Linked DNA regions of Homo sapiens: all the other regions are linked to region 3. The links come from fine-mapping of genetic effects on gene expression. A gene starts in region 3. Each other region holds a variant in brackets. All regions are shown on one strand. Distances are from middle to middle. Region 1 has its middle 21 kb from the start of MIR3622B. Region 2 has its middle 72 kb from the start of PNOC. Region 3 holds the start of CLU (clusterin).

The links. PIP is the estimated chance that this variant, and not a neighbour inherited with it, causes the effect.
Region 1: its variant is the best candidate, but not a certain one, in a credible set for the expression of CLU in thyroid (GTEx, PIP 0.65).
Region 2: its variant is the best candidate, but not a certain one, in a credible set for the expression of CLU in skeletal muscle (GTEx, PIP 0.70).

The regions. Positions count from the first base shown.
Region 1 is chr8:27,719,175-27,727,354 of GRCh38, forward strand. It overlaps a transcript of SCARA3 not described here. Among named protein-coding and RNA genes, the nearest start is that of MIR3622B, 21 kb to the left of the region's middle. RefSeq lists an enhancer at 8,013-8,180. The variant T/A (reference allele first, on the strand shown) is at 4,601.
Region 2 is chr8:28,241,304-28,249,483 of GRCh38, forward strand. No RefSeq gene overlaps it. Among named protein-coding and RNA genes, the nearest start is that of PNOC, 72 kb to the right of the region's middle. The variant A/G (reference allele first, on the strand shown) is at 3,259.
Region 3 is chr8:27,610,926-27,619,105 of GRCh38, forward strand. It overlaps CLU (clusterin), which reads right to left and starts at 3,775. Exons shown (of 9, transcript NM_001831.4): 1 at 3,730-3,775. RefSeq lists enhancers at 1-224, 3,407-3,906, 4,863-5,363, 5,654-6,410 and silencers at 2,188-2,373, 3,929-4,018.

The DNA.
Region 1 (8,180 bases), 110 kb after region 3:
GTAAGAATGGAATATTACACAGACACAAAAAAGAATGAGATGATGTCCTTTGCAGGGACATGGATGGAGCTGGAGGCCATTATCCTTAGCAAACTAACACAGGAGCAGAAAACCAAATACTGCATGTTCTCACATGTAAGTAGGAGCTAAATAATGAGAACACGTGGACGCATAGAAGGGAACAACACACACTGGGGACTTTCAGAGGGTGAAGAGTGGGAGGAGGGAGAGGATCAGGAAAAATAACTAATGGGTTAATGGCTTAATACCTGGGTGATAAAATAATCTGTACAACAAACTTCTATGACAAGTTTACCTATGTAACAAACCTACACTTGTACTCCTGAATTCAAAATAAAAGTTAAAAAAAAAAAAAAAGGAATGAAGGTAAGGTCTAGGCTGTGTGACCTTGACCAAGCCATCTTAGTTTTCAGGGTATCGGAGTTCTCATCCATTCAATTCTAACAATAGCAAAGGAGTCGAAAAGACTAAACAACACTGCCTCTGACACAGGAGAGGTGCTTGGTAAACATCCTATTATTTATTCCCCTATGCTGTTGATTTTTTTGCAATTGAAGAAGCAGATGTAGTAATTGGCAAACTAATTGTCTCCCTTCCCAACTGTCTTTAAAGACCCAATCCTCCTCACTTCTTTGAGACCTCTGTCACCAAAATGTCTTGGGGTCTAAAATAGAAAAGATGCAGCTCTAGAGCCCTGGGAATGACTCATTGATTATAATTTACTCTGAGAAGTGCTAATGTACAGGAATTACAGAAAGCCAAGGAACACAGAGAAAAAGCCCATGACTCACCCTGCAGCTGATCAGGGAGAACTTCCTGAAGATGTTGGAGCTAAGTCTTCAAGGACAAACAGGAAACGGCCAGGTCAGAGGATGGGGAGGGATGAGGGCTTTTCCCCATAAAATAACTGCAGTTGGAGAGGTTATGGAGATTATAGGAGATGTGGGGTGCTTCAAGGCTGGGTGCTCGAAAGCTAGGTGAGGAAGGATACCTCACCCTCTCTGGCAAGTAAGAAACAGGAGGGTGCTGAGCAAGTCTGAGTGGCGAGGGGAGGCCATTCTGTCTCTGCCCAAGATCAGGTGGATCCTGATTTTGGGAAGCTTGAAGCTGATATACTCTGGCAGGAGTCTTTCTTTAAGAAGACTCTTAAGTAATGTAACATTACAAACACGAAATTAGAGATTGGTCTGGGAAGGGGCTGTGTAAGTCAGGTGACCCTACCACTTAAGCTTCATCAGTTTCATAATAAACTCATCTCTGCTAACTAAGACTCTTACCCCATCTTTCACCCACTATGCATGTGGGGCTTCAGAAAGAGTACTGGCTTAGGAATCAGGATCCTGGTTCTAGTCGAGTCTCCATCACCACCTGATCAAATTAGGGTATATTTCTGTTCCAGCTGATCTCTAAGGTCCTTTCTATCTCCATCCATCCATCCATCCATCCATCCATCCATCCATCCATCCAGCTATCCATCCATCCATCCATTCATCCACCCATTCATCCATCCATGCATCCATCCATCCATTCACCTATTTATCCACTCGTCCATCCATTCATCCACGTATTTATCCACCCACCCCTCTATTCATCCATCCATTCATTCATCTATCCATTCGTCCAGCCTTCTATTTATCCATCCAGTCATCCATCCATCCACCTATTTATCCACTCACCCATCCATTCACCCACTCAGTCATCCAACCATTCATCCATCCACCTGATTATCCACTCATTCATCTATTCATCCATCCACCTATTTATCCATCCATCCATCTATCCATTCATTCACCCACCCATCCATTCACCCACCTATTCACCCAATCTGCCAATTCATCCATTCATGCACCTATTATCCATCTACTCACCTACTCATCTATCCATCCTTCCATCCATCCCTCCTTCCCTCCCTCCCTCCCCACCTCCCTCATTTCATGAGTAAGGCCATTTTAAGAACATCCAAGCTTCTTACTTTTTTAGAAGCTCTATTCCACCTCACATCAAATGCAATAAAATTTACTCATATTATGCATTAAATAAATATACATATATATCTGTATTTGCTGTAAAATTTTGAAGTTTTTAGAGACTTTGCTTTCAAAAATTTTATTTACTCAACCAATATTATTGAGTACCTACTATGAACCGGGCACTGTTCTAGGCATTGGGGACAGAGAAGTAACAAACATTTCAGGTCTTATGGAACTTATTTGGGGTTGAGTCCAACAAATAGATAGAAAATATATACAGTATGGTAGATAAATGTCATGGATAAAAATAAAGCAAGAAATATAAAGAACAAAAGAATGAGGCAAGATTGGTTTATTGTCCATGAACAAGGGTTTTTAAATGGTTGGTTCTGGCCTTTAGAGTGATAAAAGACAATTGAGATTCATCCCAATGGCCTCAAGTTAGATGGTGTCGGTGAGACTGAGGTGGAATGGGGGTCTTGCCAGGAACACCCAGGACCCTGGAACTCACCCTTAACTTAGGGATAATGCTGATGTTTGGCTTTGAGCAACCCAGTTTACAAATGACCATGATTCCTCAGTAATCAAAGTGCACTTCCAATTTACAAGTCTAAAATGAAATAAGGCCAGGTGCAGTGGCTCTTGCCTGTAATCCCAGCACCTCGGGAAGCCAAGGCAGGTGGATCACTTGGCCAAACTCTCAAACAGGAGTTTGAGACCAGCCTGGGCAATGTAGCGAGATGCCGTCGCTACAAAAAAGAAAAAATACAAAAATTAGCCAGGAGTGGAGGCATGCGCCTGTGGTCCCAGCTACTCAAGAAGCTGAAGTAGGAGGATTGCTTGAGCCTGGGAGGTCAAGGCTGCAGTAAGTTAATGATAGCATCACTGTGCCCCAGCCTAGGCAACAGAGTGAGATCCTGTCTCTAAATGAAATGAAATATTTATGAATGCTAAATCTAGATGTAAGGATGATATGGTAGCATGACATTTGTAGACATTAATTAAATATGTATTCGATTGTGGTTTCTATTTGAATCTAGAAGCCAGTACATTTTTCCAAGGTCTCATACATTTTTTGCATGCTCCTGAAAAGCTTGCAAGTATTGTGCAAATGGACTAACTGTCCTTTTGCACAGACTCCCACACTTGGGACAGGTACTCCTGTAGATGTGAAGATGCATGAAGACACAGGCAGCCTTGCCCACAGAGAGCTCATGGTTCATGTTCACAGCTACTCTGGGCTTCTGCATCTATAAAAAAAGAGGTCAGATTCACCCCATAGAATGATTGTGAGGCTTCAACAAGATCACCCCTGGCCCTCACACAGACCTCCAAACCCTCGTGCCTCCATCCATAGTATCCACAACATGTCTTCTCCAAAAGCCACCCACAGTTCTCTGCTGTGCTCTGCCCCTGGCCATTGGCCTCAGACCCATTCTCTAATGGCTCTTGAGCTGCTGTCAGAAAGCCCTACTATCCCCAGCCTTATCACTGCAAATTTCCATTCATTTTCAAGCCTTTTTCTCCTTAGCCTTTCTCCTTAACCAAAGCAGCTTTCTCCTATCCATCTCCCCTCACCATAACATTGTATGGCCAAGTAGGAAACCACGCCTTGTTTTCTGCTGCTTCCCCAGACTGTTACCCACCATTGACACTGAAGGTCACACCATCTGGTCCTGTTACTTTCTCCAACAGGGTATCCCTTTTCTCCTAGTGACCCCGGCACCAGGTCCACTTGTCCCTGACTTCAGGTGATATGGCCGCCCCACCTGAACCCATCTCTCCCTCCCACCAGCACACTGGGCTCCCTCTTCGGCAGCAGGCAGCATTGCTTCCCCAGAATACATCCCAACATCAACCACGCTGTGCATCTGCTGCTTAGTCTCATACTTGGTGGTGGCTTCCCTTTCCTTCCATAACCCACTTATCTCTTGGACAGATCCCCAATCACGTTACTTGTCCCATTTTCACCTGTCCATACATTTTTAAAATATATATTTGATTTCCTTCTTGCGGGGCCTGGAGCCCCTCAGCCCCTCTGATGCTGCCCCACAAATGACCTGAACTCCTTGAAGTTCACCCCTGAGCTGATGCATCCACAGCCCTGGGCTATCTTGTTTTCTTTCTTCTCTCCTGTTCCTTGGCTCCGAATTGGCAGGTGGAGAAAGTTATCATTCCATGCTAAATGGACCGACTACAAAATTGTTCTAACTCTACCACTTCCTTTTGGCAACCTTCTGATTCATTTCTTGTAAGAGTGAGCTTTTCGTCACGCACTGACTGTCTCAATCTTTCCCCTTCATCCTTAGAGTCTTAATCTCACTCCGACTGCTGATTTCTTACAAATTACTTCATCTACCACGTTCTGGAAGCCAATCATTAAGAGCTTTGTCCCAGTCGATCCCTTCTCTGTACTAAAAATACCTCTTGTCCTCTCCAACTCCTAGCTTCCTGGCCCAGATGACGGACACCCCAGGTACTGAAAACTTGTCAGTGGAGATTTCTCAAGTGTTATTTGTGAACTTTGAGCAACCATGGAAAGCAAGACTAGGTATCAAAAAGTGCAGTTCTTTTTGTTGTTTGTTTCAGAGACAGAGTCTCGCTCTGTC[T/A]CCCAGGCTGGAGTGCAACGGTGCGATCTCAGCTCACTGCAACCTCTGCCTCCTAGGTTCAAACGAGTCTCCGACCTCAGCCTCCCGAGTAGCTGGGAGTACAGGCACGTGCCACCATGCCGAGCTAATTTTTGTATTTTTAGTAGAGACAGGGTTTCACCACGTTGGCCAGGCTGGTCTCGAACACATAGCCTCAAGTGATCCACCCGCCTCAGCCTCTCGAAGTGCTGGGATTATAGGCGCAAGCCACTGCACCTGGCCTGGAAAGGGTAGTTCTTATTTTCCAGAGGTCAACAGTGAATTCCCACAACTCTCGGCTTGATGACTTGCCATCAATCACAGGCAAAATTATAGAAACCAAAGGGCTGCTTTATGTTATTTAGAAAATAGTACAGCAATTACTAGGAGTCAATACAAGTTCTCAAAGCCTCATTCCTTTTTTATTTTTTATTTTTGGCAGGGTTGCTAGACTGGTAGATCAGGAAGACGCCATAAATATATTTTATCTGGCTCTAAAGCAAGGTTGTTTTTTGACAACCATGTGAGCAAGTAGGAGAATATAGTCCAGATTAAAGTAAAATCAGGAGGATTAAAACTGGTCAAGTGTGGCCGGGCACAGTGGCTCAAGCCTGTAATCCCAGCCCTTTGGGAGGCCGAGGCGGGCAGATCACAAGGTCGGGAGTTCGAGATCAGCCTGGCCAACATGAATTCTGTCGCTACTAAAAATACAAAAATTAGCTTGGTGTGGTGGCAGGTGCCTGTAATCCCAGCTACTTGAGAGGCTGAGGCAGGAGAACCGTTTGAACCCGGGAGGCAGAGGTTGCCGTGAGCCAAGATCGCACCATTGCACTCCAGCCCTGGCGACAGGGCAAGACTCCTTCTCAAAACAAAACCAAACAAAAAACTGGTTAAGTGTGCCCAAAGAGTGCTAAGTAATGGATTAACCTCAGTCAGAAGGGATGTTTGCTGAAGGCACTATTCTGAGACCTATCCCATTCTTCCAAATTTTGGGGGGTGACAATATAGAAGGAATATTTACAAACATGTACATATATTTGTAAAAGGAATTATGTTCAAGGAAATAATGAGAACCATAAATAACTCAATAGGCAGATTCCAACTAGATGTCTTTGACAGAGAAAATTCATCAAAACATAATATTGACTGAAAGTAGCAAGTCATAGAAAAAACATTACAATAAGATTCCATGAATGAGTTTCAAAATAGGAAGAATCGGTGGTGGCTCACACCTGTAATCCTAACACTCTGGGAGGCCAAGGTAGGAGGATCACTTGAGCCTAGAAGCTTGAGACTGCAGTGAGCTGTGATTGCACCACTGCACTCCAGCCTGGGCAAGAGAGAAAGACCCTGTCTCTAAAACAAACAAACAAACAAAAACAGGTTGAACTAAACAGTGTATTATTTATAGAAATACACATCAGAGATAAAAGATATGAAGAAGAAGCAGATGATTATCACAAAATTCAGGAGAGCTGGGGGGAAGCCAGGCATGTGATTAGGAAAGGGTGCAAATGGGACTTTGAGGAAGGATGGGTGAGTACTGCTCTATTTCCTAACCTCAGAAATATAACATATAATATTTATATTATATTTATATTTATATTTATATTATCCTTGAAAATGAACATATCTTTTCATACACTCTTTTGTGTGTTTGTTACATTATATAGTAAAAAGAAATTTTAAGGAATAAATCTAAAGTTCTATACCATGGTCCAAACCACTGCCCCCTCCAAAAAAAAAAAAACCAGAATAATCTAATCAATACAAAGTGCAGAAAAGACAGGGGATTTAATGGGTGGTGTAAGTCAGAGTCAGGTGTCTAGGCTACATTTGGAGAATTGTCTCTACCCTATTCCTGTGCAGGCCAGCTGGGATCATGGTTGGGTTCATGGCTGGAGTCATGGCTGGAGACCATGCACAGTTCAAGAGCTGCTCCTTCCCTGGGAGTAAGCCAAACAGGGAAGAGTTGGGGGGTCTTGCCCCATGGGATGTCAGAAGCCATCCTCTGTCCGCAGATGCCTGCTTTTCCTGCTGTCTCGTTGGATCACAGAGAATGGGATGTTTAGGGGCAGTCACAGGTGGCAGCTGACAGCTGTCTTGAAACTTTTTAAACTGTCACATGAAAAGATGAATTCAACTTGTACTGTGTGGCTCCAGAGGACAGAGCAGCAGGTAGAAGTCACTGTGAGTCATGAGCTCCCGTCTCTGGATGCATTCATGCCCAGGCTTAGGTCTTCTGTTTAGGGAGTCGCAGAGGTCACAGTTAGGTCAGCTAAGATGACCCTTAAAGTCTCTTCCAACCTCCACAGGCTATGAGTCTATGAAACCTGTGCATGACATGCACAAAGGAAACATAGAAGCACTTTGGGAGCCCGTGGCAGGAGGATTACTTGAGCCCAGGAGTTCAAGACCAGCCTGGGTGACATAGCAAGACCTGCATCTACACAATTTTTAAAAATTAGCTGGGTGTAGTGGTGTGCATCTGTGGTCACAGCTACTCAGGAGGCTGAGGTGGGAGGATTGTTTGAGCCCAGGAGTTCAAGGCTGCAGTGAGCTATGATTGCGCCACTGCTCTCCAGCCTGGGCAACAGAGCAAGACATTGTCTCTTAAAAACAACAGCCAGGCGCAGTGGCTCATGCCTGTGATCCCAGCACTTTGGGAAGCCGAGGCGGGTGGATCACAAGGTCAGCAGTTCGAGACCAGCCTGACCAATGCGGTGAAACCCCGTCTCTACTAAAAATATTTAAAAAATTAGCTGGGCTTGGTGGCGGGCGCCTGTAATCCCAGCGACTTGGGAGACTGAGGCAGGAGAATTGCTTGAAACTGGAAGGTGGAGGTTGCAGTGAGCTGAGATTGTGCCACTGCACTCTAGCCTGGGCAATAAGAGCAAAACTCCGTCTCAAAAAAAATAAAAAATAAAAACAGTTTATTCTGAAACCAAAGAGATTTGATTTTAAATATGAGCATTGTGCTTTGACAGTATTTATTTATTTATTTATTTTTTGAGATGCGGTCTCACTCTGTCACCCAGGCTGGAGTGCAGTGGTGCGATCTTGCCTCACTGCAACCTCTGCCTCCCAGGTTCAAGCAATTCTCCTGCCTCAGCTGGGATTACAGGTGTGTGCCATCACACCTGGCTAATTTTTGTATTTTTAGTAGAGATGAGGTCTCACCATGTTGGTCAGGCTGGTCTTGAACTCCTGACCTGCAGTTATCTGCCCCCACCTCGGCATCCCAAAGTGTTGGGATTACAGGCGTAAGCCACCGCGCCCAGCCGACAGCATTTATTTTAAAATGAAATGGGCCCTCCCTATGTTGCCCAGGCTGGTCTCGAACTCCTGGGCTCAAATGATCCTCCTACCTGAGCCTCCCAAGTAGCTGGGATTATAGGTGTGAGCCACAGCACCTGGCTCAGTTTGCCTCTGAGATCAACACGTAGTATTGGTTTAGAAGAAGATTCAGGCACCTTCCGCCCACATTTTTAAGATTTCAAAGGCAAAGAGCTTTGAAACCCCCCTTGAAGCACAGCTTTTTGTGAGGTGCAGCACTTCCTGT
Region 2 (8,180 bases), 630 kb after region 3:
TCTGAAAAGCCATTGTAAAGCCAATGTAGTACGCAATTACAAAGTAGTCCCCCATTTTAGATAGCCAATGTGCAGTTTTATCAACTAAAATTGACTGAAGCAAGGAATTACATTTATCTAGTGTTATGGGCTGAATTGTGTCTCCCTGAAATTCATATGTTTAAGCCCTGACCTTTAGTTCCTCAGCATGGGATTGTGCTTGAACGTAGGGTTCTTAAAGAGGTAACTGAGGTTAAATAAAGTTATTAGGGTAGGCCCTAATCCAATATGACTGGTGTCCTTATAGGAAGATTATGACATAGACATGCACAACCATGTAAGGACACAGGGAGGAGACGGACATCTCCAAGCCAAGGAGAGAGGCCTCAGGAGAAACCAACCCTGATGGCTCATGACCTTGGACTTCCGGTCTCCAGAGCTGTGCAAGGATAAGTATCCATTGTTGAAGCCATCCAGTATGTGGTACTTTGTGATGGCAGCCAAGCAAACTAATTCATCAACCTTGAATCCCCCATTAAAGGTTTGACCGTTAGCAAGCTATGTCCAACAAAGTGTCCCACAGCGTACTAACATGGATGTAGCCTGGCCTTGGAATCAAATCACCCTTGGCTACGATTCTGTGTCTGCCACTTGTGAGCTGTGTGACTTGGGGAAATGACTTCTGCCTCTGGACCTTAGGTTCATTACGTATTAAAGGTGGTTCCTTCCTCCCGGGGTTAAATAAGGATGCAGTGAGACTGGATTAAATGACAGGATGTTTATGAAGGCCTGACCCATACAAGGCACTGTGTGTATTAGCTTCCCTTCCTTATCTTGAGGATTGTGTATCCCCAGATAAATTGATACCATCTTCACTCATGGAGTCCCTAGTACTTTTACATGTCTTCACATTTTCATATGATTTTCAACTTAACCAGTCTTCAGTTAAGATAGGAAGAGTGGGCTGAGCACTGTGGCTCATGCCTGCAATCCCAGCACAGTGGGAAACTGCAATCCCAGCACATTGGGAAACTAAGGCAGGAGGATCCCTTCAGCCCAGGAGCTCAAGACCAGCTTGGATAACAGAGTGAGACCCATTCTCTACAAAAAAAATAAAATTAGCCAGGCATGGTGGCACATGCCTCTGGCCCTAGCTACTCGGGGAGCTTAGCTTGGGCCTGGGAGGTCAAGGCTGCAGTGAGCTCTGATTGTGCCACTGTACTCCAGCCTGGGCAACAGAGCCAGACCCTGTCTTGGGGGAAGAAAAAGAAGTAAACAGAGAGAGAAACCTAAACAATTTGGACAAAATACAGAGCTAAACGGTAGAAGAGTCCAAAATCCAGGCTTCCTGGCTTTTCTTTGACTGGAAAGATGGAAACTCCTAGTGTGGAACGAGGCTAACCCCATGCAGGATAAGAATTTCTCTTGTTGGAGGCTGTGTCACAGGCCATGGTCACTCATATTTGGCTCAGAATAAATCTCTTCAAATATTTTACAGAGTGTGACTATTTTCATCAATAATATGTATGAAAGGGACAGAAGTAATTTTTCTAATTTAAATAAAGGGTATCCCTGCCCCCCAAATCCATCCAGATTCATTCTTCCCAAACACAAACTTCATTCTATTTCTTTGCTATCTAAGATCCTTCTCTGACTCCTCTTCCCTGATGTTGGAATGAAATTGCGTCCAACTCTTTCCGTCTGACCATCACCTCCCCACATGGTCAGCCTCTGGCTCCTTGTCCCGCCTTTCTCACAACCCCCCTCCACCTCACAGGGCTCACTTCCCAGCTCACCCCTTGGCCACACTCATTTCCACCTTCAAGCCTCTGCTCTAGCCCTCCCTCCCCCAACTCCTCTCCATGCAAACTAAGCTGGAGACCAGCAGGGACTGCCCACCCCCCAACCTTTTTTTTTCTTAGAGTTTTCGCTCTTGTTGCCCAGGCTGGAGTGCAATGACACGATCTCGGCTCACTGCAACCTCCGAGTCCTGGGTTCAAATGGTTCTCCTGCCTCAGCCTCCCAAGTAGCTGGGATTACAGGCACGCACCACCACGCCTGGCTACTTTTTGTATTTTTAGTAGAGACGAGGTTTCACCATCTTGGCCAGGCTGGTCTCAAACTCCTGACCTGGTGATCTACCCGCCTCGGCCTCCCAAAGTGCTGGGATTACAGGTGTGAGCCACTGCGCCCAGCCAGGGACCCCCTTTTTAAGGGCCCATGCCCCGACCTCCACTGCCCCAAGCATGGAAATAAAGGAAAATTCTGAGTTCCTTCAAGGGAAACTCCAGGCAGCTCACTAGCCCAGAGAGGCAAACATGCAACTTTATAAGAAGATCACAGTAGCCTAAAATGATAGCCAAGGGAAGTTGGAATTCAGAGATGTTTGGTTTCCCTAGACAAACTAAGATATATCTTAACAAATGTCCCTGGATCCCCCGACCAAGGAACCCCATGTATGTATGGACCCACTGGCATGTAGACCTCAGATACAGGGAAACTGAGGACTCAACTCTGACCATCATTCTTTGCTCTAATTTCTTCCTGAGGGGCTTGGAGGGAGTCACATCTGGAGCCAGTTAACATTTTTTTCATCTGACCACAAATTTTTAAACAAAGCTTCTCTTTCTTAACCAATTGCATATCAGAAAATCTTTGACTCTACCTATGACCGGAAAGCCCCCACTTTAAGATATCTCACCCATTTAGGCCAAATCCAACGTGTAAACTCCAGGTATTGATTTGCGATTTTGCCTGTAGCTTTTGTTTTCCTGAAATTAAACCCTGAATTTTCCTGAAATTAAGCCCCAGGGGAGGTCAGGGTTTGAGCAATAGCTACCCGGTCGGCCTTGCTTGGCACCCCGCAAATAAACACCTTCCTTTCTATCCCTGAGACCTCGGTGGGGATTTCTGGGCTTTCTGCACCGGGCGAGCGGACCCCAGTTCAGTTCAATAACCACCTTGCCTATGCAAGGCCAATTTTATTCCACTCCAAAGCCTCCCAGACAACAGCAACTCCTCCATTTCCCAACTCTCAGTGCCTCAGAACCCTGTGGGCCCCTGTTTCATTAATCAATTGACCTCAAGTGGTCCCCCGCCCCACCCCCACCCCCAGGACTCAGCAGCTCCCACCCTGCCGCAAGCACTTCCCACTGGAAAACTTTCCAAATAAATCAGTAAACCAGGACCTGGGGCTTTTGCTGGAAAGTCAAATTACAGTATTTGTTTGAAGACTATTTTTCATTCAAAAATAAGCAGGGATATTAGCTCAAGACACAC[A/G]TACACACACACAAATTCCTTCTTACAAGGCAAACATCCCATTTTAATGGATCTAATTAGATCCTCAGGATATAGACCTAAGAATAGACATCTGTACTTCTCTCTTAACACCAGAGGTAACTGGGTGCCACCCTCCAGCAACACTGGGGCACGGCTGAGCAGGAAGAGGAGGAGGGGAGGGGAAAGGTCAGGGGTCAAAGGTCACTAGGCAACTTCACACTGGCCAGGCTGAACTCTGGAGAACCATTTCATAAAAGCAGGTCATAAAACAGCCTTTGGTTCCCTCATGGAAATAATATTGTAACTGGAAACTGATTCAGCATCATAAATATACTGAAAGCAAAGACATCCCATCTGTATTAGTCTATTTTCCCACTGCTGTAAACGACTACCTGAGACTGGTTAATTTATAAAGAAAAGAGGTTTAATTGACTCACAGTTCTGCAGGCTGAACAGGAAGCATGACTAGGAGGTCTCAGGAAACTCACAATCATGGCAGAAGGCAAAGGAGTAGCAAGCACACCTTCCTATGGCAGCAGGAGAGCGAAGCAGGAGGAGCCACACACTATTAAATGCTCGGATCTCGTGAGAACTCACTCACTAGCGTGAGAACAGCAAGGAGGAAATCCGTTCCCATGATCCAATCACCTCCCACTGAGGCAGGAGAATACAGAATTAGGGTAACCAAGGGTTAAGTCATACTTGGAAGAACAGCAGGTGCAGCCAGTTCCAGGCAAGACTGGGCAGCACACAGGCCACATCCTGGCTCCTATGATAACAAGACAGGAGTTTCCACTTCAGCCTCTGATTGTTCATGGGCCAATCTTTCATAGGGTGTAACCAATTGGAGGCCTTTCAAGGGCACCTCAGAGTGTTACCAAATTCTTTTAGCCTAATACAAACCCTAAACAACACTGCAACTCGGGGGCTCTTGAGCTGCTTGCTCCAGCCTGTTCCCACTCTGTGGAGTGCACTTGCACTTCATAAATCTGTGCTTTCTTTGCTTCATTCTTTTGTTGCCTTGTGCATTTTGTTCAATTATTTGTTCAACACGCCAAGAACCTGGACAACTCACAGTCAAGAACTTCCATCTGGTAACACAACCCGGCCCCTCCTCCAATTCAACAGGAGATTTGGGTGGGGACACAAATCCAAACCATATCACCATCTATAAATCAGTTCTTATATTACTTACAAGAAAAATATATGCAAGAATTGGCATAAATATACCATAAGTATACTATACATGCTAATTAAAAGAGAGGTTCCATTATATACTCATAAACACATGAATGTACAATTTTACTATATCATAAATGTTATCTACTATGAACACATTAGCTGTAATTGTAAACATTGAATGAATACTAATTTTCCTTGCCTTCTTGGCATTTGGACAAGTTTTGTGAAGATGATTTGCATGGTCCAGGTTTTCTAAAAAAGTCCATAGAGATAGTTTGAACAGATGTAGCAAAGAGAGCAATTCATCTTAGAGTGCTTGGTCCAACTTAGAACAGCCTCAGAGCCTCATAGGTGACAGGTGGGCAAGTAGAGGTGGCAAGAAAAGCATGGAAGCCTGAGACAGTGCCCAGAATTATTCTGGAAGGAGAAGAGAAAGTAAACAGTCCTCCAAACATTAGTGAATTTTTCGGCAGGCGGCAGGGGGAGAGGAGGACCAACATGGGCGATGGCCACAGATACTGGGGTGGCTGAGTCCCACATTCACTGTGAGATGGTTAATGTGACATGTCAACCTGGCTGGGCCCTGGTGCCCAGTTGTTTGGCCAAACACCAGTCTAGATGTTGCCATGACGTTATTTCTTAGATGTGATTACATTTAAATCAGTAAACTTCCAGTAAAGCAGACTACCTGTCATAATGTGGGTGGGCCTCATTCAATCACTTGGAGACCTTAAGTGCAAAGACCAAGGCTTCCCAGAGAAGAAGAAGTTCTCCTGAAGATTGCAGCATAGAAACCTTACCTGAGTAGCCAGCCTGTTTTGCAGAATTCACGCTCAGGACTGCAACATCAACTCTTACCTGAATTGCAGCCTGTCAATCTTCCCTGCCGGCTTCAGACTTGCCAGCACCCGCAACTGTGGGAGCCAGTTCCTTAAAATAAATGTAGGCAGGTAGATAGGTAGGTAGGTAGAGAGATAGATGATAGATGAATAAATAGACGGATGATAGATGGATAGATGCAAGAGGAAAAGAGAGAAAGATAAGTACATCTTTTGTTAGTTGTTTCTTTAGAGAACCCTGACTGATACAATCTTCTAGCATCTTGAGCCAAGAAGGAAACAATTGTGCATAGAGTGGCCTGGACAGCAGAGAAGCTGCAACAGGTGAGGAAAACTGTGGCTGAGAACTCCAGTTCACTCCATCCATACCTCACTTTCCCAAAGGCAATAGGAGCCTTCTGAGTTCATGGGACAGCCCTGAACACCAGGCTTTTCAGAAGTAGGAGCCATCCACGCAGAATCACTGCCCAAGCAAGCTATCAGCAAAAATCAGTCAGGGCATCAAAAGTCCAGAATGAAACCATGGATGCTTTTTGTGGATCAATCAGATGAACTTGGGAATGAGGCCAGTTCACCTTTACGAGCCCCAGGGAGCTTCAGGCCAACGCCTCCAATCAACCATGTGTTTAGTGCAGAGCCAGGGCTTTGTGGGCGGAGGGCCTGGCTCTCTCGATTTCTGGCCTCTGGAAAGAACAAGGGCAATCTGTGTTCTCATTTGTAAAATGAAGATAATTTTGACCCCAGGCTCACAGGGTGACTGTGAGCACTAGATTGACCGGCATGTGCTTCCTGAGCCAGAATACTAAAGCCAGTTGCTCCTAATAGCTCAGAGCTATTTTCTGATTTTCCTTTTTTTTTTTTTTTTTGACAGAATCTCGCTCTGTCACCCAGGCTAGAGTGCAATGGTATGATCTTGGCTCACTGCAACCTCCACCCTCAGGGTTAAGCGATTTTCCTGCCTCAGCCTTGCGAGTAGCTGGGATTACAGGCACGCGCCACCATGCCCAGCTAATGTTTGTATTTTTAGTAGAGACACAGTTTCGCCATTTTGCCCAGGCTGGTCTCAAACTCCTGACCTCAAGGGATCCACCTGCCTCAGCCTCCCTAAGTGCTGGGATTACAAGCATGAGCCACCGTGCCCAGCCAGCTCAGTGCTGTCTTCAAGGCAGCTCCTAGGACACCTCCCACAGGGAAAATAGTTCTCTCTGGTTGTGACAACACAGGACTTCATGTAGGGGTCCCCCAAATTGTAGGGAGGTAATTTTCACATCTTTGAAGGATATGAAAATTAGACCCCTTAGGGGAAAATACAGGCTGAGAGACAGTGGCCGATCGTGAGGTCCCTGATGAAGAAGGAATTGGATTCTGGCAAGTGAAGCCTCTCTGCAGGATGAGGACAGGAATATTGCTATTATGCCCTCCAAACGAGGAGCCCCACAAACCTTAAGAAGGGGGAAGGTGAGCCTTGGCTGCTGCAAGACAACAAAAACAACCACGCGCTTCACAATTACTAACTTGCTTCATTCCCACATTGATCCCCCAAAGCATCATTAGACTATATTTCTTTTTTACACATAAAGAAACTAAGTCTCCAACAGACTTGGCCAAGGTTCCCCATTTCGTGAGAGGGGGAGCTGAGACCCATGCACAGGCACGTGAGTCTCTCACCTGCCCCTTCCACGACACCTGTGCCCTTTTTCACAAGGTCATGAGGTGATGACTCTATGCTGCGGTCTGAAGATCAATGAGACAGACAACGCCCTAAGACAATAAAGAAAGATAAAGGTAAACAGGTCAACACTTTTGTTTTAGGAAAGGGCACCTTCAGAGAATGATCAAGATGAACAAAACTTCCCACCCCCCTGGAGCTTTTCCTAGAGAGGGAGACAGACATTATATCAGCACAATTTCCATCTACTGTCAATCCCTGAAAAAAATAATAAAATAGAATAGAATAAGATAAACCAGCACGACTGTGTTGTCTTATGAAGGAGAAGTGCGGGAGATCCCAGGAACTCGTGAGAGGCAGGAGTGGGTTGGCATGAAGCAAAGGCTTCAGGGAAGATGTGAGGTTAAGCCAAGAACCGACAGAAGTTCAGGCCGGGGCATACACGACTCCGAGTCCATGTACACAAAGCCAAAGGCCAACAGGAGCAGTTGTACTCCAGACACCCAGCTTAAAGCATGCTGATAGGCCGGGTGTGGTGGCTCACGCCTGTAATCCCAACACTTTGGGAGGCAGAGGCAGGCGGATCACCTAAGGTTGGGAGTTCGAGACCAGCCTGACCAACATGGAGAAACCTCATCTCTACTAAAAATACAAAATTAGCCAGGCGTGATGGTGTGTGCCTGTACTCACAGCTACTCAGGAGGCTGAGGCAGGAGAATCACTTAAACCCAGGAGACGGAGGTTGCAGTGAGCCGAGATTGTGCCATCGCACTCCAGCCTAGGCAACAAGAGTGAACTCCATCTCAAAAAAAACAAAAAAACAAAGACAAACCAAAACAAGCATGCTGATATTAAAACAAAACATGGATGGGCTATGGCTCAAAGTGTGGAAATCTGTACATATTTTGAGTTCAATGGGAGCCCTCCAAGAAATCCCCAGCTTGGGAGTGGCCCCATCATGACCTGTTCACCTTCATCCACCACAAAACCTAGAGGTCTGATCCAAACCAAACCCCCAAAGCAAATGTGTAGGATCCAGCACATGGACTTCAGTCTGCTTGATTTCAAAGCATGAAATCGTTGGCTGTTTTCCCCAGAGGTTACCTGCTCAATACAGCTTTCAAGCTGAATGCCATCTTCCATTCCCTTGCATGAAGGCCTGCATACCATAAGGAAGTCCAAATAGCTCAGCTGCCACTTCCTTCCCTTGTCTTTCCATCCTAAAGGAATCT
Region 3 (8,180 bases):
TTCTGCATCCTGGCCTCCTTGTCCAGAGTGGTATCGATCATGTCAGACACTGAAAATACCCCCCTTAGGTCATGCATCCGTCCCTCCCCATGCCACCTCCACAGAGGGACTGCATCCCAGAGACCAGCCACGTCCTCTGCAATGTGCACCTAAACCTTCACCCCAGCAGACGCTCCCCATTCACCACAGCGCTGCAGCCCCCAGGGAGTCTCAGCACCACCTGAACTTGACTTTCAAGAGCCGGAGGCAACAGCAGCCAGCCCTTCACACCGAATCCATCTGCATCCCTAGTGGGAGACTTGGGCCGGGCTGCCTGTGCATTCAGGGGTGGAAGTAGTGGAAGCCAGGAAGGACAATTCCCTTCGGAGAGTAGAGAGGGTTCGCAGTGGCCCGAGGAGCAGGCTTCCCAGAGAAAGTCCCTTTGGAAGGATGAGTCCTCTTGCTCTGCCAGGCCCTCCACACTGCCCATCCCCTCTAAGCCGACAGCAGGCTGCCCTGCCAGTGTTCCTGCCACCACTGGGCTGGCTGCCCTGAGCCACGGGGCACAGGCCATAGCCCCGGTCTTACACAATGGACCCTTTCCCAGAAGCTGAGGCTGTTGCATAAAACAGAAACCCCTCCCCCTGCACTCCACCCCCACCATGCCCCTCCCAAGAACTGCTTATCTGAGCTCACCCATTTGCCATCACAGAACCAACAGGACGATGGGGTTCCCCTTCCTGAAATGGTTCACATCCAAAGCCCGCTCAGCCCAGCAGGCCCATCTGGACACTCAGTAGCACATTAACAAGGAGTGCCTCTCATGAGAAGTAATCAGGCGCAAAGAGCCAGGGAGCAGCGTGGGAGAAGAGATGGGGTCAGCGCCTTCCCCAGAGATGGGGTAGGGGGCGGAGACCGGGCTCACCAGGAAGGCTGTGGTCTCACGGGCTCTGCCCCAGCTGCCCACTGAGCCCTGAAATGCCTCCAGCAGGAACAGAGCCTTTGTCATGCCAGAGAGACAAAGCCAGCCAGAAACACCTCTCTGCCAGGGGCCCCTGAAAGCAACAACTTCTGGAAAAACCCATTCAGAACTAGGTTCTGACCAGAAGACAGGGTGCTGGGCCATGAAGAATGGGGCAGCCAAAGGCAAGATACAGGAAAGGAATTCCAGACTCAGCAGCGGGCACAGAGTCTGCTCCAGGGAGCCTGGGGTCCCTGGTGAACCATCCAGCTCAGACCTGGGAAGGAGGTCGTTCTCTCACCCAACCTCTCTACCCTAGCGGTGAGGCTGAAGCCCAGAGAGGGCATGGGACTCCCTAGAGTCCACAGCATGCTCATGGTAACCCTGGGATGAGAGCCCAGCCCTCCCGACCCCTAGTCCAGTATTCTTTCCTTGATTCCAAGTCACTTAAATATCTGAGCCTCAGTTTCTTCATCTGTAAAATGGATCTAATCCAGACCTCAGAGAGGGGAATGTGTTCTGTAAACACGAGGGTCTTATGTAATCATAGTAAATTCTGACTACTTCCAAATTAGACTGAGGTCTGAGGCTGGGCATTGGCAGTGTCTAATCAACATGTCTGGAGAGGGGCAGGAAAACCGAGACAAGCACACAGAGGCCACCTGTGGTCCCCCGGACTGTGTGGCTCTGCTTTGCTGAAATGATTGACCACTTTTTAAAGTACTTATGAATCACTGCAGGGCTGGTTATAATGTTGGTTCTGAGACTGCTTTTCCAGCCAGTCTGCAGGTGATATGGATGCTGCTGATCCAAGGAATGTTCTAGAACCGTGACTGCACAGCCGACCTCCTTTCCTTTGCTCGGACTCACCTCCCCCCTCATCTCCTCTGCCTCCTGGGAGCCTGGCTGCCAGCTGCCCTGGGTGGAAGAGCCATGCCAAGGCCAAGGCCCTCGAGTCCCCAGCACTACCACACAGCCTCATTCTCCCTAAGAAGGCTTAAACCACTTGGCCTTGCTCCTTCTACCAGAAAAGGCCGGTTCTGTGGACAAAGGGGCTGCTCAGGGGAAGAGGAGGAGGAGAAGATGGCGGGGGGTGGGGGGCAGGGGGGGCGGGGGGAGCAGGCAGACTTTGGGAGCAACTCCCCTCCAGGCACACCCTCCTGGGAACTTTGAACTGAGCAGCTTCCCAAAACGTTTCCAAGCAGGGCAGGGCTGGAGGCTTAAGAAAATCAATGACCTGGCAGGGCGCATTGATTCACACCTGTCACCCCAGCACTTTGGGAGGCCAAGACAGGCGGATTACTTGAGATCAGGAGTTCGAGACCAGCCTGGCCAAGGTGGTGAAACCATGTCTCTACTAAAAATACAAAAATTAGCCGGATGTAGCAGCATGCGCCTGTAGTCCCAGCTACTCAGAGGCTGAGGCATGAGAACTGCTTGAACCCGGATGGCGGAGGTTGCAGTGAGCCGAGATGGCGCTACTCTACTCCAGCCTGGGCAACAGAGTGAGACTTGGTCTCAGGAAAAAAAAAAAAAAAGAGAGAAAAGAAAGAAAGAAAATCAATGACTGTGAACAGGGAGCCGTGGGGAGGATGGGAAGACAGTGAAGAGGGCACACAGATGGTGAGGGTTTCAATCCCAAAGCCCCGGCTCCTATCTGCTTCTTCAAATGGAGAAAACTAAACCAAAAGGAAAATAAGAAAAATAATCACCGGTAATTCATATCACCCAGAGGCAAAGGTTAGCACTGTGGTATATTTCCTTCTGTCTTCCATGCAGTTTATACAAGATTCTTCACATTCACCATCTTCAAATATTCTTTAAGGGCATACTTTTATGGCTATGTAATACTCCACTTACTCACGGACCTAAGTTTATTTTACCATTCTCACAAGATTGGCCATTTCAGTTGTGCCCAATGCTCCACTATTATTATAACTTAACATTTTCATGGGCATCTTTTTTTATATAGTATCTGTACTTTCCTTTAAATTCCTAACCTCTCCGTTTAAAAAATAATAATAAAAATCATATTTTTTTTAACTAGGTCCAGAAATTCTGGAAGGTCAAGAGGCTTTGGCTCGAATCCCAATTCTGATACTTATTTGCTGTTTAGTGTTGGCACCAGTCCTAAACCTCTCCAGGCCTCAGATTATCATCTGTAAAATGAGACTGTGGAATCAGAGGTCTGAGGCCTGGTGGATCTTGTGTGACTTTTCTCTGATGCACCTCAGATGCATTAGGAGGCAGAAAAAGTCGGATTTCGGTGGTTGCAGCATATACTGAAATCCGCAGCCTCATACTTACAGGCAACAGTGTCCAGAGAGCTAGAGAATTTAGAAGAAAACTAGATGACTCATGCATGCAAGCCGAAAGCCACAACTGAGAGATCCGCATCTTCGCAGAGGATATGCTGCAGGAAGGAGCTCGGTGCAGGCCAGCTCTGTCACCTGCTAGCCTGGGTCTCCCGCAACGCGGCAGGTCTCCAGGTCTCAGTTTCCCCATCTTTGCGAAAGGATGATCATTATATCTGTTCTATTTACCCCCCCACCACAGAATTGTGGTTGGAGCTCGTGCTCTCAGGCGGCGGTTGCGCCGGGGCCCCTGGCTCAGCTGCCTGGTGATGGGGCTCCGGCCACCTCCCCTCCCTGGCTTCCTGGGCTCCGTCGAAAGCGCAGGGGTTGTGACTGCGAGCTGTGTCATCCCTCTCTGCCTGGCTGCCATCCCCTGCCCGCCCATCCGTCCTGGTGTGGCTCTGCTCAAGGGTAGGGAAGACGGGGACATCTCACCGGTCAGCGGCACCCTGTGCCCGCGCGCTCCTCCTGGCGACGCCGCGTTGTGGGCACTGGGAGGCGCCGTATTTATAGCGCTCTGCTCGCGCACACACCCCCTTTGGGGCTGGCTGCAAACCTGCATGACTCACGCCCAAAGAATGCCGCGGAAAGCAAGGGGAGCTTTCTGGAAGCCGGGAGGTGGGGGCCGGTGCAGCACCGGGCTGGGGGCGCCGGGGGGCGCATCATCACCACGAATAGCTGTGCTGGCTCCAGGAGAGACCCTGAGGTGCGGCCGCTCGGCGCTTCCAGTAGGGAAGAGCCTGAACTCGCGTGCCCATCTGGGAGCCCCTCTCACGCGGTTAGCCCGGCTGTCTGTCCCAGTCCAAGACACAATCTCACAGTTCCCTGGCCCTACTGACCTTAACCTTCACATTACACAAGCGCCACTTCTCTTGACCCATTTAAATAGTAAAGAGTCAGACATAATGAGGGTGGGATGGAGAGGGGCCTTGTGCTGGAGAAGAGAGCACAGGAAGTATTGAAACGCCTACTCCTGGAAACATCACACTGATGGGGGTCCCTGGACTGACCCGCCAGGCCTGGAGGAAACAGAATTGTGTTTAGGAGTGATCAGAGCAGATATGTGGAGAGCCAGAAGGCCTCTCCGGGGTCCTTGATCCACAGAGCTTAAGCAATCACTGTCCCCATCTTTTTGGAACCCAACCAAGCAGGGTGGGCTTCATGGCTGTGGGACCCTTGCAGATCCACGTTTGGTTTAATGGGCTACTGTGACGGTCTTGAAATTCTTCATAGTTTTTGAACCAGTGGACCTGAATTTTTATTTTGCCCTGAGCCTTCCCAGTTAGGAAATCAGATCTGTGTCCAGAGGGGTTTGCTGGTCTCCAACTGCTGGAGTTCCTTCTGCTGAGAGCAGGGAGAATCTCCTGTCGCAGCCACCCCTCCCCCTGGCAAGGAGGGGCAAATCTAGGAACCCTGGAGGTGCAGCTACTTCTTGGGGAAGAAAGTGAGCTGCCCATTTTGGAGCCAGGGATGTTTAAGCCCCAGGAGAGAAGTCAAGGGGCTGACAGCTGGGGCAATGGGTGGACAGGGCGGGTACAGGCAGCCCCACTGTGGGTGGCAGACTTTGAAAACCATGTGAAACAAAGGGGCTTAAAGGAGAGCTGCGTGGTCAGGGGCTGAGTTTTCCAGTTCAGGATCAGGACTATGGAGGCACAACATGGAGGCCCAGTCCCTTGCTTGCCCAACGTCCAGGGGCCACTAGGACCCCAGTCCTTTTCAGGAGGCAGCCTCGGGGAATCTTCAAGGCCCATGACTAAGTGGGAGAACCCAGACCAGGTCCATGAAAGTCTGATTACAGTCCTAGGTGTGCCCCTAGACACTGGGTGACCTCGGACTAATCACTTTGCCCTTGGGCCTCAGTTTCTTCCATCTGGACGATGAGGAATCGGGAATGGATCATCTCCACGGCTCCCTGCAACCTAACCTAGAGCCAAGCCAAGTATTAGAAGGCCATTAACCCAGAAGAAGAAAAAAATGTCCCAGAAGAGGCTACACTTTATTTTTCTTAAAAAAAAAATGTCTAATTATCAGTAACAGCTACATTTTCTGTGGACAGTGCCTGCTCCTTATCAGTGCCTGCTCCTTATCAATACCTGAGGTTAGAAGAATTGTTTTTGAGCTCGCTCCTTGTAACTTTTCTGTTCTGTAGCTCCCTCAGCATCCGGAACAGAAGGCATAAATCTAGTTATATTTTTAAAAATTAGACTTTGGAGGTCAGTCAGTGAGATCCGCCTTAGCCAGCTGAATTAGGGGAAGGGAAGAGAGGAAGAAAGGACTTGGGAGAAAATAGCATGATTCACAGATTCACAGTCATGACTGTGATCCCTTGGGAATAATTACTTGATTATTCCCACTACTAAGCAAACAAGGTTCAGAAGGTCAAACTTTGAGGAAAGAAAAGTGTAAATTTTGAAAGCGCCATAAATGCATCACCAGATGTTTCATATTCTAAGCAGATCATAGACATTGATTGGTTCAGGACTCACACACTGCTTGATTCCTACCCCATCCCCAGCATCTGCACCCGGTGGTCATCCTGCCCATGTTTGAATGCCACCAATAACAGGGAGCTCACTACCTGCCATGCAACCATTTGTCTAGTAAAGCTGTTGATAAAGTTAGGGCCTTCTTTGGTTGAGTCACAGTCTGGCTCGTGTATGGGCCAATCCGGAGCCCAGTTCTGCCCTCTGGAGCCACACAGAGAAAATCCAGCCTATCTCTCCCATAGTGCCCCTTCTGATATTTGAAGGCAACGTAGTCTGCTTTTCCCAGTGACCTCCAGGCTTGCAGCTCCTTGCCTTGCCGTGGTTTGCAGACTTTTCCCCAGCCCTTTGACATTCTGGACCTCATCTCTCTTGAAACCCTTGGCCCAGCCCTGGACTAGCCAATGCCAGTGGGGAGCCTTGGACCAGCCAATGCCGGAGGGCCTGAGCACACAAAGCAGAACAGGACCACCCCTTCCCTTGCCCTAAACACTCCAAATAAGCTTTATCAGATGCTGAGTCACTGGGCTGATTCATAGAGAATGCATCATCTTCTTGGCAGGTGCTGCTGTTTGATCCTCTGTCTCCCATTATGGACTTACACAGCTGGGTTTGGGGCATTAGCTTGATTTATTTTCTTGGAGAGTCAGAGCCATGGGGAGGGCCAGGGAGGGATGAGTAAAGACCCTTGCATTTATCTGTTTATCTATGCTTTGTGCACCATCTCTGGCTGCCTGAATGTCTCTGGGGCTGCTTCGCTACGCAGTGTCCTTATTACACATCCCCAACCAGCCTTTGTCTGGCTCAGCACCACAAGCAGGACAGCTCAGCCAGCAGTCTGATACAGCTGGAACAAACTAGGAATGGGCAAGAGCAGTATCCTGTGGCCTGTGATTAAGAATCACTCTCAGATGGGCGTGGTGACTCACACCTGTAATCCTAGCACTTTGGGAGGCTGAGGTGGGAGGATCACTTGAGTCCAGGAGTTCAAGACCAGCCAGGGCAACATAGCAAGACCCAGTTTCTACAAAAATTAAAAAATTAGCCAAGCATGGTAGTGCATGCCCGCAATCTCAGCTACTCAGGAAGCTGAGATGGAGTATCGCTTGAGCCCAGGAGGTCAAGGCTGCAGTGAGCTACGATCGCACCACTGCACTCCAGCCTGGGCAATAAAGTGAGACCCTGTCTCTCAAAAATAAAAATGAAAAAAATAAGAGAATCACTCTCCAAGGGGAGCAGGGAGGGAGGATGGTGAGAGATTGGTCAACCAGTACACAGTTAAAGTCAGATGGGAGGGATAAGTTCTGGTATTCTATCGCATAGTAGAGTTTAACTTTTTTTTTAGGTCCCAGTATCTATTGCTCCCCTCTATGTGTCCATGTGTTCTCATCATTCAGCTCCCACTTATAAGTGAAAACATGCAGAATTTTGTTTTCTGTTCCTGTGTTACTTCACTTAGAATAATAGCCTCCAGCTCCATCCATGTTCCTGCAAAAGACATGATCTCGTTCTTTTTTATGGCTGCATAGTATTCCATGGTGTATACCGTAGTATTCCATGGTGTATATATACCATATTTTCCTTATCCAGTCTGCCACTGATGGGCATTTAGGTTGATTCCATGCCTCTGCTATTGAGAATAGTGCTGCAATGAACATATGAGTGCATGTGTCGTTATGGCAGAGCAATTTATATTCCTATATATACCCAGTAATGAGATTGCTGGGTGAAATGTTAATTCTGTTTTTAGCTCTTTCAGGAATCATCACACTGCTTTCCAAAATGGTTGAACTAATTTACACTCCCACCAACAGTGTATATAAGCCTTCCCTTTTATCCACAACCTCACCAGCACCTCTTATTTTTTGAATAATGTATATTTCAACATAGGTAGAAGAGAGAACTTACAATGTTCTCACCACAAAGAAATGTTTGAGATGGATTTGGTAATTACCCTAATTTGATCCTTACACAATGTGTGCACGTATCAAAACATCACATTGTACCCCACAAATATGTACCATTCTCGTGTCAGTTTTAATTTTTTTTAACTTAGTGAAAGGCTGGGTGCAGTGGCTCACGCCTATAATCCCAACACTTCAGGAGGCCGAGGTGGGGAGATCACTAGGTCAAGAGACCATCCTGGCCAACATGGTGAAACCCTGTCTCTACTAAAAATACAAAAATTAGCTGGGCATGGTGGCACGCGCCTGCAGTCCCAGCTACTCGGGAGGCTGAGGCAGGAGAATTGCTTGAACCCGGGAGCTGGAGGTTACAGTGAGCTGAGATCGCACCACTGCACTCCAGCCTGGCAACAGAGTGAGACTCCATCCAAAAACAAACAAACAAACAAACAAAAGGATGGATTTGCTAATTACCCTAATTCGATCATTACACAAACGA